Linked DNA regions of Homo sapiens. The protein of the gene in region 3 purifies or fractionates together with the protein of the main gene of each other region. This does not show direct contact. Each region holds a gene or a part of one and is shown on either strand. Other genes may lie near its edges.

Region 1 (3,699 bases), about 13 Mb from region 3:
AATCGCTTGAACCTGGGAGGCAGAGGTTGCAGTGAGCTGAGATTGCGCCACTGCACCCCAGCCTGGGCAACAGAGCAAGACTCTGTCTCAAAAATAAACAAATAAATAAATAAAGATAATTACATCTAAAGATGACAAGTAAAACAAAGCTGTCATTCAAACAAAATTAGTAAAATATCTTATCTCTGATTGGGAATTCTAAAGGAACATTTTGCCACCAAAATTCTGATAATCCCCATCAGCCCCAAATACTTCAATTGCTATCTTTTGTGTATGCTGAGAAATAAATTCACGATGGCAATATATATATATATATATATATATATATATATAATGTTAAAAAGGTTGATTTAGAAATGTGAATGTCCTCCAATCATGGTAGCTCATGCCTGTAACCCCAGCATTTTGGGAGGCTGAGGTAGGTGGATTGCTTGAGCCCAGGAGTTTGAGAACAGCCTGGGCAACATGGCGAAACCCCACATCTACAAAAATACAAAAATTAGCTAGGCATGGTGTTGCGTACTTGTAGTCCCAGCTACTCAGGCTGAGATGGGAGGATGGCTTATGCCTGGGAGGCAGAGGTTGCAGTGAGCTGAGATTGCACCCTGCACTCCAGCCTAGGCAATAGAGCCAGACCTCAAAAAAACAAAACAAAACAAACAGACAAATGTGAATATCTTTAAAAATCTCACAGTTATTATAGCTGTATTTTGGTATTTTTTCATTTTATTTTTAACATCCTAGAAACCCCCAGCAGTGGGCCAGCTGGGCCTCTCTTGACCTCTGAGAGGTGAAGCCTTTGGGACCCCCTTACCTAGCTGTTCCATGAGCTTCTTGTAAGCTGGATCGATCCTTCTCATGGACTTTATCAGATCTTTCTTTCGGAACTTAATCTCCACTGTCCCCTCTGGTTCCAGAACACCACCCCTTAAAAGAGAAGAGGCAGGGATGGGGGTATATGAGGCATTGCCCAGCAAGCAAGGGCTAATGGATGTGGGGGGAGCTGGAGGGAAGAGAGCCAGAAGATCTGGGTGTCAGTCCTCAGCTCTTTTACCCCCACACATGCTGTGTGCCCTTAGACAAGTCACTTTCCCTCTCTGGGCCTCTGTATCTTTACCCACAGATGGAAAGACTGAGCCAACTGTTTAAAATAATGCTTTCTGAACTCTGGAGGGCCCCTTTCAGGTCTAAGAGTGTACGACTTTTTCCATGGCAGCATAACCCTCCTGCTCTCCAGCCACAGTCCTCTCTAACTTTGCTAATTTCTGCCCTCCTAGAGGAGGGGCACTGTTTCTGATCGCTTTAAATCTCACAAAAGCACCTTGAGAGCCCAGTGTAGTCTTGTGTGAGCTGTCCTCCCATTTCCAACATACATTTTCTTTTCTTTCTTTTTTTTTTTTTTTGTTTTTTTTTTAGACAGGGTCTCACTCTGTCACCCAGGCTGGAGTGCAGTGGCACTATCTCGGTTCACTACAATCTCTGCCTCCCGGGTTCAAGTGATTCTCCTGCCTCAGCCCCCCGAGCAGCTTGGATTACAGGCGTGTACCACCATGCCCAGCTAATTTTTGTATTTTTAGTAGAGACGGGGTTTCACTGTGTTGGCCAGGCTGGTCTTGAACTCCTGGCCTCAAGTGATCTGCCCCCCTTAGCCTCCCAAAATGCTGGGATTACAGGCGTGAGCCACCACGCCTGGCCTCATTTCCAACATTTTTATTTACCCCTTATTCTCCCCCTGCCCCCTTTTGCTTTTGACAGCTTAGAAGCCCTGAAGAATGCTATCAGTAGCTCTGAGCTTCCTGGTGGCCAGCATGAAAAGTTAGCAATGACTCCATTCAAGTGCTGCTCAGTATCCTGAGTCTTCCTGGAGGACTGACCTCAGCAGTCCCTAACAAGGGTCTAAGTGCCCTGAATGCAGGACAAGCTTGGCCCATTTGCCACCATATCATAATGTCTACCAGAATGGCTGGCATACAGTGAGGTAATCAATGGATATTCATTGAATTAGCAAATGAATGAGGGAGTGAACACAGGAATGCCGTGCCTATATTTGGAGTAGAATGACTCTTGAGGCCTTGACATCCTGTGTAGCATGTAGTTTTCACTTCAAAGTCATCAGTCACTGTGCTGTGAACATTATTGTCATCATCCTTTCTGTAAGAATCTCTGGAATAAATTCCTCCTAAGGAAAGTGCCAAGGAGGTTACCTCTCCCGCGAAGAACCGGTATCCTCTCATGCAAGTATTCATTCAGTCATTTGTTTAGCCAGTATTTTCTGACCACCTACCAGGAGAGTAAGGCACTGTGCTAGACCCTGGGATATAAAACTGAATAAAACATTTCCTATAGGAACTCATAGCTCAGAGTCTAATGAGAGATAAATGGCTCATCATATTTCCCTTTTCATCCTGGCTGCCAGGAAGTTCAAGTGCTTTTGGTCTTTCCTTTTTATTTTTTGATTGCAAACTTCCTTGGGAAGGGGAAGTGGAAACCATGAAAGAAGAGACAACATTTCTCCACCACTTACAGGTTCCAGCCACTGCATCCCTCCATGATCTCCCAAGGTCATGGGCTCTCAAGGCTGGGAGAACAAGAAAAGGCTAAGCCAGGCTAAGGGCAACACACCCACCTGCTCTCTTTGTCTGCATACATTTCTATGCACAGCGGGTTGATGGTGGCATCTATGACCACCCAGGAGCCTCCCCGGAGCTCCGCATAGGGCGGGATATAGATCAGGATGGGCTGTTTGTATTGTCTAAGGCCGTCCACGATGTAGGCTCCAAACTTCAGCACCTGGTCATACATGTCTGAAAAGCAAAGCAGCCTCCCAGTTCAGGGCCCTCACTCATCCACACATGAAACCCACTGCCCTAGTTGTCCTGGGGGTCCTGGGAGAGTGAGCCCAGCTGAGAGGCTTGGAGAGCACTGGGCTGGGATTTGAGAGTACTGATCACTCTCTAAGTGGCTGTGTGACCTCGAACAGGTCATTCACCCAGTGTGGGCCTCAGTGGCCTCATCTGTGAAGGCACAGGGAAAAACCAATCTCTAGGATTCTTTCCAACTGGAATTGAAATGCCCTCACCCATGACTGTCCCTGCCCTGCCCCACCATTTCCAGCAAAGAAAACCCTCACTAACAGTCACACTGATCCTTCCCCAATGTGCATGGGCAACATGGCCCTTATCTTCCACCAAGACACATCTCTCCAGGTCCCCAGGCACCCTACATGAAAACAAGAATGCAATAATAACAGCACTGACAATCACACTGCATGTCAGCAATTAGCTCATCAGACTCTTACCTCGGCCCTCTGAGGTTGGTCCTGTTCTTAACCCCCTTTTACAAAGGAGGGAAACTGAGGCTCAGTGATGTCACCCAGTTAACAAGGACTCACAGCAGGTCTGTCTGCCTCCCATCCAGCTCTGTCCTCAACACCCCAGTGATCCAACAGCCACTCTCTCCCAAAACATGCTTGGTGGCTTAAAAAGCCCTCACACAATTGTAAGGTCACATGAGGCTCAGAGCAGCTTTCTGCAGAGGGAAGGGTGGACAAACATCCTCCTCACCTTGCCAAATGGGGAGGTGCCTGCCCAGGTCACCCGGCAGCTCCTGGGGCTGCCCCTCCCTGACCTGCACCTCATGGTGTGACCTCTAGAAAGTGACACTTTGCCTCCAACCCTCAGTTCCTCATTGTTTTTTTTT
Region 2 (3,699 bases), on a different chromosome or scaffold from region 3:
ACCCCAGCACTCTCACCTACTGGGACCCCAAACTGGCCCCCAGAGATTTCAAGAGACTACTGCGAAGTGCGCACAGCAGGCTTCAGTACGGTAAGCTGGGAACAATCTTGTTCTGATAAAAGCAATACTCCATGTATTATCTCTGCCTGAATATTAACCCTCCAGGTCCAAATGGCCCTCCAACAAGATGGCTCCTGCTCTCTCTGCACAGCACCTGTCCTCCCTTGCTAGTTGATTATCTGGGTTGTTACTGACTCATGTCTGTCCTCCTGCTAGACCTTAGAGTTTTCCAAGGCAGGGCCTACATGTCTCTCTCTCTCTGTCTCTCTCCCTCTCTATCTATCTATCCGAAACAGAGTTTTACTCTGTCGCCCAGGCTGGAGTGCAGTGGGGCAATCTTGGCTCACTGCAACCTCCTCCACCCAGGCTCAAGAGATTGTCATGTCTCAGCCTCCTGAGCAGCTGGGATTACAAGCATGTGCCACCACACCTGGCTAATTTTTGTATTTTTGTAGAGATGGGGTTTCGCTATGTTGGCTGGGCTGTTCTCGAACTTCTAACCTCAAGCCATCCTCCCACCTCATCCTCCCAAGGTGTTGGGATTACAGGTGTGAGCCACCACACCTGACCTATTTATTTAAGAGACAGGGTCTTGCTCTGCTGCCCTGGCTAAAGTGCAGAGTGCAATGGTGCGATAACAGGGACTGCAGGCATGTGCCACTCTGCCTGGCTAATTTTTTAATTTTTTTTTTTTTTTTTGGTAGAGGTAACATCTCACTATGTTGCCTAGGCTGGTCTTGAACTCCTGGCCTCAAGCAATGGTCCCACCTCAGCCTCCCAAGTCACTAGGACTAAAGGCATGTGACACTGTTCCTGGCCAATGCCATTTTTTTGACAGGCATGAAGGGCAGCTCTGACAACAGTATATCAGCTGTGCTCAACTTTGATTTAAATATATTTAGGCCCCTGGGTTTGCCTTTGTGCTAACTTGTTAAAAACATATTTTTTAAAAAGTAAAACATATACTTTGCAAAAAAAAAAAAGAGGGAGAGAGTGAAGATAAAATATAAAATGCCCTGTGATTCTTCCAGCAAGATTGCTTTGGCTGTTTTCTTAGAAATGTTTGATGCCCAGGCTGGGCGCGGTGGCTCACGCCTGTAATCCCAGCACTTTGGGAGGCCGAGGTGGGCGGATCACGAGGTCAGGAGATAGAGACCATCCTGGCTAACACAGTGAAACCCCATCTCTACTAAAAATACAAAGAATTAGCCAGATGTGGTAGCAGGCGCCTGTAGTCCCAGCTACCCGGGAGGCTGAGGCAGAAGAATGGCGTGAACCAAGGAGGCAGAGCTTGCAGTGAGCCAAGATTGCGCCACTGCACTCCAGCCTGGGCGACAGAGCGAGACTCTGTCTCAAAAAAAAAAAAAAAAAAAAAAAGAAATGTATGATGCCCAAAGAAATGCTTGCAGATCCCAGCTCTGAGCTGCAGGCCCACATGGGTAAAGAAACACAGGCTTTGGCTAAGCATGGTGGCTCATCCCTGTAATCCCAGCTACTTGGGAGACTGAGGTAGGAGAATCACTTGAGCCCAGGAGTTTGAGGCTGCAGTGACATATGATCATGCCACTGCACGTCTGCCTGGGCAACAGAGTGAGATCATGTTTCTTAAAACAAAAAAAAGTAACAGAGGCTCATTATGGAACAAATGGAAATGTAGAAAAACTGAAATAAGCCTAGGCAATATGGAGAAAACCCCATCTCTACGAACAAAACAAAAAATTAGCTGGGTGTGGTGGCGTGTGCCTATAATTCCAGCATTCCAGAGGATCACCGGAGCCCAGGAGGTCAAGGCGGAAGTGGGCCGCAATCATGCCACTGCACTCTAGCCTGGGTGACAGAGTAAGATCATTTAAAAAAAAATAAAAAGAAAAACTGAAACAGAAAGGAATGGAAAAACCCAACAATGTCTCCCTACTTTGCAACAGCCACTATTAACACTGGTATATATCTTTATTTTGCTCTCTAAATTAGAAGTCAGAGGAAATAAGGCTGTGATCACAGCACACACTCTACTTCTTCCATTTCCTACTGTAGCACACCATCCTGCTCCAATCTCAAATTCCTCACATACGCTGCTTTTTAAACCCGCATGACGTTCCACCATATGGATGTACCCAATGGTGCAAAAAGCTCATGGAGTCCACAGGGCTAGCCTTTTTCCTTTAAATAGGAGAAAGGAATAATTTTTAGTTCATCAGAACTAAAATAACCTAAATACATCAACAAGGGGCACTGGTTAAATAAATTACGGGCCATCCACAGGGAAGATGGGGCAGCCCTGAAAAGTTGAAATTTTAGACAAGCAATCAAATACAATGTTAAAGGAAAAACAAGGCCAGGCGCGGTGGCTCACGCCTGTAATCCCAGCACTTTGGGAGGCCAAGGCGGGTGGATCACGTGGTCAGGAGATCGAGACCATCCTGGCTAAAACAGTGAAACCCCGTCTCTACTAAAAATTAAAAAAAAAATTAGCCGGGCATGGTGGGGGGCACCTGCAGTCCCAGCTACTCAGGAGGCTGAGGCAGGAGAATGGTGTGAACCCAGGAGGCAGAGCCTGCAGTGAGCCGAGATCGTGCCACTGCACTCCAGCCTGGGCAACAGCGCAAGACTCCATCTCAAAAAAAAAATAAATAAATAAAATAAATAAATAAAAAAAAACAAAAGGACAGGCTATAAAACAGTATCTACAGTGTGGTTCTACTTACATCAAAATACATTTGAATTAAAAATTGTTACAAAGGCCGGGTGCGGGACCTCACACCTGTAATCCCAGCACTTCGGTAGGCCAAAGCAGGCGGATCACCTGAGGTCAGGAGTTCAAGACCAGCCTGGCCAACATGATGAAACCCCGTCTCTACTAAAAATACAAAAAATTAGCCGGGCGTGGTAGCGGGCACCTGTAATCCCAGTCACTGGGGAGGCTGAGACAGAAGAATCACTTGAACCCAGGAAGCGAATGTTGCAGTGGGCCAAGATCGCGCCATTGCACTCCAGCCTGGACAACAGAGTTAGACTTCATCTCAAATATAAAAAAAAATTGTTAGACAAACACATCGGGCCAGGAGCAGTGGCTCACACCTGTAAACCTAATGCTTTGGGAGGCCAAGGTAGGAGGATCACTTGAACCCAGAAGTTCAAAACCAACCTGGGCAACATAGTGAGACCCCATCTACACAAAATTTAAAAATTAGCTAGGCATGGCAGTGGACATCTGTAGTCCCAGCTACTCAAGAGGCTGAGGTGGGAAGATAGCTTGAGTCCAGGAATTCCAGACTGCAGTGAGCTATGATAGTGCCACTGTACTGCAGCCTGGGTGACAGAGTGAGATCCTGCCTCTGAAATAAAACAGGCCCGGCACGGTGGCTCAAGGCTGTAATCCCAGCACTTTGGGAGGCAGAGGCGGGTAGGTCACCTGTGGCCAGGAGTTCAAGACTAGCCTGGTCAACATAGTGAAACCCTGTCTCAACTAAAATACAAAAAAATGGCCGGGCTCAGAGACTTATGCCTGTAATCCTAGCACTTAGGGAGGCCGAGGTGGGAGGAACAACCTGAGGCCAGGAGTTAAAGACCAGCCTGGCCAACATGATGAAACCCCATCTCTACTAAAATACAAAAATTAGCCGGGCACGATGGTGGGTT
Region 3 (3,699 bases):
CACAAACACACACACACATACTCAATGAAAAGCTTCTTTTTCCACCAGAAATAACATTACAAGTCAATAATATAAAATACTAAAATCTAAGTTGTTATACTTCAAAAAATGTTTATTCTAAAATAATACTAAAAAACACATATTAACTAATTTAAAGAAGAGCAAGTCTAAATTTGGAGTGATAAGGGCTTCAATGCTGTTACTTGATAGTTTCTCACAAGTATAGACCAGGTGCAGTGGCTCACACCTGTAATCCCAGCACTTTGGGAGGCCAAGGCAGGCAGATCATGAGGTCAGGAGCTCAAGACCAGCCTGGCCAACATGGTGAAACCCTATCTCTACTAAAAATACAAAAATTAGCTGGACATGGTGGTGCACGCCTGTAATCCCAGCTACTCGGGAGGCTGAGGCAGGAGAATCACTTGAACCCGGGAGGCGGAGGTTGCAGTGAGCCAAGATCACGCCACTGCACTCCAGCCTGGGCAACAGAGTGAGACTCCATCTCAAAAAAAAAAAAAATTTCTCACAAGTATTTACCAACGTTGTTTACATTATTGAATATTAACACATACTAATAACAAACATTACCCATCAATTATAAGAATAGTAGATTAATATGACTTGAGAAGGCCAAAGTTAGTAACTGAACTAGAATACAATGAAAGAGAAATTATCTTTGGGTCCTTTTCCCTTGTTTACAAACATGTACACAAAATGTAGAGTATTCTTGAACATATTTACACTAACAAATGCATAAAAAGAAACAAAAATGTGTTATTAAAAGGTAGAGAAGCACGGGTACGGTGTCTCATACGTGTAATCCCAGCACTTTGGGAGACCGAGGTGCACAGATCACCTGAGGTCAGGAGTTCGAGACCAGCCTGGCCAACATGGTGAAAACCCATCTCTACTAAAAATACAAAATTTAGTTGGACGTGGAAGCTCACACCACCTGTGGTCCCAGCTACTCCGGAGGCTGAGGCACGAGAATAGCTTGAGATCACGCAACTGCAACACTGCACTCCAGCCTGGGCCAACTGAGGGAGAGACTCCGTCTCAAAAAAAAAAAAAGAAAAAAAAAAGGTAGACAAAAAATATTTATTATTTTATTTTTATTTATTATTTATTCAAAAAATCTATAATTTTTTTCCCCCGAGACAGAGTCTTGCTCTGTCGCCAGGCTAGAGTGCAATGGTGCGATCTTGGCTCACTGCAACCTCTGCCTCCCAAGTTCAAGCAATTCTCCTGCCTCAGCCTCCCGAGTAGCTGGGATTACAGGCATGCACCACCGTGCCCAGCTAATTTTTGTATTCTTAGTAGAGACCGGGTTTCACCATGTTGGCCAGGCCGGACTGGAACTCTTGACCTTGTGATCTGCCCGGCTCAGCCTCTCAAAGTGCTGGGATTACAGGCGTGAGCCACCATGCCTCGCCCATATAAATGTTTTAAATTTTTTTAGCATCTTGATTTTTAATTCATTTTGAGCAACATGTCCTACCTTACATATTTTATATACTGCAATCTTTTAATGTAGTAAAACCAGTTCAATGTACTTTAAATCGCATTTTGATGAGCTTTTCTAATATCTCACTCATTGTTTATAGAGTGCAGACAGTAACATTGACTTTTTAACATCTCATCCTCATGGAGACAGTGTAGAGTAGTGGTTTGAATGCCTAAACTGGAATGTCAATGTTACCACAGAGGTCGGTCCCTGGAAACAATGACTTAACCTAAGGTCTTTGTTTCTTCATTTGAAAACAGGCAGAATACCTATATGAAGCGCTTATTGTGAGGATTTCACAAAATAATACTTAGCATAGTGCCTAGTAGAGGAGGTAAATAATTAACGTTAATTTCTTTCACAAAGTTTATGTTATGGACTGAAGATCTGTGTACCCCCAAAATTCACATGTTGAAGTCCAAACCTCCCAGTGTGATGGCTATTAGAGGTGGACCTTTGGGAAGTAATTAGGTTTAGATTAGGTCCTAAGAGTGAGACCCTCTCATGACGGGATTTGTGCCCTTTTAAGTAGAAAAGAAAAAGACATCCTCACCTCTCCCTCCCCTCCCTCCCACTTCACCTGCAGACAGGGAGGAAAGGACTTAAGAGTGCCCAGGGAGAAGACAGCTGAGAGGGCAGGTGCTTAGCTGATTTCAGACTTCCAGCCCCGGACCTGTGAGAAAATACGTCTGTGTTTTAAGCCACCTCAATGTATGGTATTTTGTTATAGTACCCCAAGTAAAATAAGGTGATATCAAAAAATATTTTCAAAAGGAGACTTTGGAGAGCAAGATAATTTTCACCTCATCCCAATATGCCATAGATCTGTAAATCTACATCCTCAAACAGTATTCAGTATTGCAGGTTACTGCAGAACACGGTAACATTACTTATTAGATTTACTGGTAGATGTCTATTGATTTTCCATGTTGGCCAACAGGGAGAGGCAGACAGGCTGGGAACAATAAACTACACTGAGGTATATTCAATACACTTCTCTGGCCCTTGGCAATTCCTCTTGCCAGGTCAATATTTTGCAGATATCAAAAGTAACCACCAACTAACTATATTGGAAGCAAAATAATGACAAAGAATCCACTGATGACAATAAAAATTCTTAAAAGCCAGTCTAACTGGTCCTCTCCCCATCAGTTCAAAGAAATTGCCAACATTGTAGATTGAATGCTAGTGAACTACACTAGGTTCGCTATTACAGGCAGTTTTTTTAACTTCAAAAATGCTACATAAAGCACATTTTTAAATGCCATAAACCTATTGTTTATCTTCTGCATTTAAAATGCAAAATGCCATTATCACTTTATGAAATATACTTTAAATACCGATTTCCTGTTTAAAAGTTTAGGCAAAAATTATCCATTCAAAATTCAAAAGAACCTAAAACTATTCATCCTTCCCATGTATGAAAACTGAGACAATTTTTTAAACAGGTAAAATTCCCTAGAGAATATAATTTTTACAATATAGCAATAAAGTAATTATCCATCCTGAAAGTCTAAAACAAACAAAACAAACAAACAAACAAAAAATACAAAGAACATCCTGGAAATCTAAATGCCATGTAAAAGAATGCTAGCCCATGACGGTAAAATTTTCTAAAGACTAGGAAACATCAATAAAGATTCAAAATGTAATGTCTTATAAATATTCAGCATTAGTAGACAATAACAAAGAAAATCATAGGGTAAAAATTTTTGTGTTCACAGATAACTGTTATAATATTAAGGGACATCGTCATCTCCACTTTTGAATAGCTACCCCAGTTGCCATTACAGCTTCCATTGTTCAAAATAAAATAGTTGCATTGTTTTTCAGTGAAAGGAAAGAAGGAAAATATTGCTGAAAATAAGGAAAAAAACAAGCCTCAACAAAGCAACAAAATGATTTTATATGCCATCTAGTTTCGCCATAATTGTAGGACTGAACTGGTATCTGAAAACTAAATATATCAACAAACATATACGTTAAAATCTGCGCTTAGTCAACATAGCTATCCCTGTGCTACCGGGCAAATAAAATTTAAATTTTCTATTTTTTTTTTTATTAAAGCAATGACTTATTAGAGACTACTGGTATATGAAGCTGCAATACACATGGGGATCAATTCCTCCAATTTCATGTTTCCTTACTATGTATGTATCTCTTTTTGTTTTTTCATTCTGGTAACCAGAGTACAT
Region 4 (3,699 bases), on a different chromosome or scaffold from region 3:
GCCTTGTACAAAGGTATCCCAAGAACCAGGAATTTATTCCAAGTGAATGAGATTCCTCTTAGCTGGGTTGGGTGTGTGCCTGTAGGGCATCTGTGTCCTGGGCAGTGTATGTGGACTAGAGAGAGTGCAGTGGGTGCAGCCTCGCAAAGGGGACTTGACTCTCAGAACCAGAGTCCCCCTGAGCTTTGGGCTTTCATGAATATGTTCAGAAAATTTTATCAGGGTGCATCAAGACAGATACAGTTTGTTCACACACATAGCCAAAGCTATCAATATGTTATTTTACACGCAAAAGGGAATGAAGGTTGTTAATCAGCTGGCCTTGCAATAGGGAGAGTAGCCTGATTTATCCAGGTGGGCCCAATATAATCACAGGGTCCTTAAAAGTGGAAGAGGGAGGTAGAAGAGGAGCTTATAAGGATGTGATATGAGAAGGACATGATCTGCAGTACCTGGCTTTGAAGATGGGAGAAGGGGACCATCAGCAAAGGAGTGCCCATGGTCTCTAGGAGCTGGTAAAGGCAAGAAAACACATTTTCCCCTGGAGCCTCCAGAAGGGAGCACAGTCCTGCCAACCTTAATTTTAGCCCAGTCAATCCTGTGTAGCGCTTCTAAATTATAGAACTATAAGATAATACATTTGTGTTGTTTCAAGGCACTGAATTTATATTAATTTGTTATAGCGGTAATAGAAAACTAACACAGAATATGTTGTGTACTATTTTGGATTTGACTTTTTTCTCTCCAGAGGTGGAAATATGTATATAATTTAAAATGCTTAGGTCTTTTTACAGACCTAAAGTTTGATATTAAAATTGGCTAGGCGTGGTGGCTCATGCCTGTAGTCCCAGTACTTTGGGAGGCTGAGATGGGTGGATCACCTGAGGTCAGGAGTTTGAGACCAGCTGGCCAACATGGCGAAACTCCATCTCTACTAAAAACACAAAAATTAGCTGGGTGTTGTGGGTGCCTGTAATCCCAGCTACTTGGGAGGCTGAGGCAGGAGAATCGCTTGAACCTGGGAGGCGGAGGTTGCAGTGAGCCGAGTTTGCGCCACTGCACTCGAGCCTGGGTGGCAGAGTGAGACTCCATCTCAAACAAAAAAATAATAAAATAGTTATACTTGGTTAATTTAAAATCTGTCGTAGTTAGTATGCATTTACCAATTAAATTACCTTTGAAATGTTTTAAAACTGTTATAAATTGGTCTACCAAATGCCGAAATAGAAGGAATCACATTTGTTTTGTGCAATTTATGAGAGCTGAGAAAAACTTGTACAGAAGGAACCATTGAAAAGAGAGATAGAACAAAGATGTTTTCTGGACATGATGTTCACTCACCACTATTAAGCAGATGGAAGAATTCACTGAATTGATACTTTTGACCACCTCTTATGCTCATGTGGTAGGGTGGGAGTGAGGAGAAGGTGGAGATGACTGAGACAAGAGTTCCCACCCTGAAGAAGCGAATCATTTTATAGGCAGAATGGCACAGAACGGATGTAACTACAGAGCACATGGAGTGAGAGGTTCCAGGCAAATGCTGTAGACCCAAGACAAGGGAAAATCACATCCAGGGTTGAGGAAAGCTTTAGGAACAATGGGGCAATTGAGACAGGCCCTGAAGGATACTGAGGGTAGGGAGTGATGAGCTAGTGTTTTTTAATAGTGATCTCCAAGATGTTAATATCTTAGGTGCTTTTTCTGGGGAGCTTCTGTTCTTCTGGGGAGCCTCCTCAGTCCCTTGCCTGATAATTGGCTGTTGGTGTATTCTGAGGGGGAGAGAAAAAAAGGGGCCAGCACTCATTCAGTGTATAGGCTCCTAATCTTGCATGTTTTCAGCCTCACCTTTTCCTCTTTTAGGCTAGCGATTGTGAGTTTAGAACCCTTCTGGTTAATTTCCTTTAGAGAACAAACATTCTCTGTCCTCTCAAGGTGAAGGAGAGGCCCTGTGGGGTCTGACTGCTTCTAACAGAGACTTCTGTTAGTCTCTGTTTTCAGCCTCCTTCTCACCTCCACTTTCCATGGTTCCTGGGTTGTCTTCTCCTTGATTACCCCCACTGCAGGTGTGTAAGCTTCCATTCTCTCCCTCTAAATCAGGTATTTTCTTGTGCTTTCAGTTCCCCCCAAATTTGTTTAATCCTTCCTATGCTATTGTCTCCTTGTTCTTATTCTCACAGCTGATTCTGTTCTTAATTCCTAACTGTCTTTTTGAGGGGGTTTTAGGAGAGGTTATGCCCACAATAAGCCCTTTACATCTGAACATAATGAAGATCCATAAGCAGAAGAAGCAGTGAGAGCTCTGATTCTTGTTTTTTAACCTTTCTTTTTAAAACAGCAAATAATAGGCTGGGCACAGTGGCTCCCGCTTGTCATCTCAGCACTTTGGGAGGCCGAGGTGGGTAGATCACTTGAGGCCAGGAGTTTGAAACTGGCCTAGCCAACATGGCAAAACTGTCTCTAATAAAAATACAAAAATTAGCTGGGCCTGGTGGCACGTGCCTGTAATCCCAGCTACTCGGGAGGCTGAGGCAGGAGAATCACTTGAACCTGGGAGGCGGAGGATACAGTGAGCCAAGATTACGCCACTGCACTCCAGCCTGGGTGACAGAGCAAGACTTGGTCTCAAAATGATAAGTAAAATAAAACAGTAAATATTTCTTAAAAACAGAAGTGCTTGACTGTTTGATATCCATAGAATCTGATATTAGAGTTAATTCTGTGTGATAGGTTTTCCTTCAGAACTGCAAATCATTTCTTTTTTTTCCTTTCAAATCATTTTTGTAGAGCAAAGACTAGCTCTTTTGCTCTTGACAATTCATGAACTTCCTTTAAGATATTTTATTCTATGGAATAATCTATAAATCAGACTTCTTTTCTAATTTTTTAAACTTCTGAAAATGCTTTAAAAACTATATGTATGTATTTTTTTAAATACAGAGTCTCGCTCTGTCGCCCAGGCTGGAGTGCACTGGAGCAATCTCTGCCCACTGCAGCCTCCGCCTCTTGGATTCAAGTGATTCTCCTGCCTCAGCCTCCCGAGTAGCTGGGATTACAGGCACACACCACCACGCCCAGCTAATTTTTATATTTTAGTAGAGATGGGGTTTCACCATGTTGGCCAGGGTGGTCTGGAACTCTTGACCTCAAGTGATCCTCCTGCCTTGGCCTCTCAAAGTCTTGGGATTACAGGTGCGAGCCACCATGCCCGGGCAACTTTTTTTGTTTTGTTTTGTTTTGTTTTGTTTTGTTTTGAGACAGGGTCTTGCTCTGTTGCATAGGCTGGAATACAGTGGTGCTGTCTCAACTCACTGAAGCCTCTGTCTCCAGGGCTCAAGCAATCCTCCTGCCTCAGCCTCCCGAGTAGCTGGGATTCCAGGCATGTGCCACCATGCGCAGCTAACTTTTTTCTATATTTTTTGCAGATACGGGCTTCTGCCATGTCGCCCAGGCTGGTCTCAGACTCCTGGACTCAAGCCATCCACCTGCCTTGGCCTCCCAAAGTGTTGGGATTACAGGCATGAGCCACCACGCCTGGCCTAAAAACTTTTATCTGTGAATTTTCTATTTCTTCCTCCCACTGGGTTTTCATCTCTAGCCAGTCACTATATTTGACTTGCTGATTTGTATTTTCTTTTTAGGATTTTACAGTTTTTGGAGGCAGTCTGTCAGGAGCACATGCCCAAAAGATCTGCAAAG

The links.
Region 1: the proteins of CDK17 (region 3) and ACACB purify together in Homo sapiens (affinity purification with mass spectrometry; one large-scale study listed by BioGRID and IntAct). This does not show direct contact.
Region 2: the proteins of CDK17 (region 3) and SUGP1 purify together in Homo sapiens (affinity purification with mass spectrometry; 2 studies listed by BioGRID and IntAct, with this or other methods). This does not show direct contact.
Region 4: the proteins of CDK17 (region 3) and PCCB purify together in Homo sapiens (affinity purification with mass spectrometry; one large-scale study listed by BioGRID and IntAct). This does not show direct contact.

The regions. Positions count from the first base shown.
Region 1 is NC_000012.12:109,259,585-109,263,283, reverse strand, and holds part of ACACB (acetyl-CoA carboxylase 2), read right to left. Parts: intron 3,220-3,699; coding exon of another isoform or gene 3,135-3,219; intron 2,805-3,134; coding exon 2,627-2,804; intron 928-2,626; coding exon 815-927; intron 1-814. UniProt on the Homo sapiens protein: Mitochondrial enzyme that catalyzes the carboxylation of acetyl-CoA to malonyl-CoA and plays a central role in fatty acid metabolism.
Region 2 is NC_000019.10:19,310,313-19,314,011, forward strand, and holds part of SUGP1 (SURP and G-patch domain-containing protein 1), read right to left. Parts: intron 1-3,699.
Region 3 is NC_000012.12:96,393,741-96,397,439, forward strand, and holds part of CDK17 (cyclin-dependent kinase 17), read right to left. Parts: intron 1-3,699. UniProt on the Homo sapiens protein: May play a role in terminally differentiated neurons. Has a Ser/Thr-phosphorylating activity for histone H1.
Region 4 is NC_000003.12:136,256,838-136,260,536, forward strand, and holds part of PCCB (propionyl-CoA carboxylase beta chain, mitochondrial isoform 1 precursor), read left to right. Parts: intron 1-2,338; coding exon of another isoform or gene 2,339-2,398; intron 2,399-3,641; coding exon 3,642-3,698; intron 3,699-3,699. UniProt on the Homo sapiens protein: This is one of the 2 subunits of the biotin-dependent propionyl-CoA carboxylase (PCC), a mitochondrial enzyme involved in the catabolism of odd chain fatty acids, branched-chain amino acids isoleucine, threonine, methionine, and valine and other metabolites.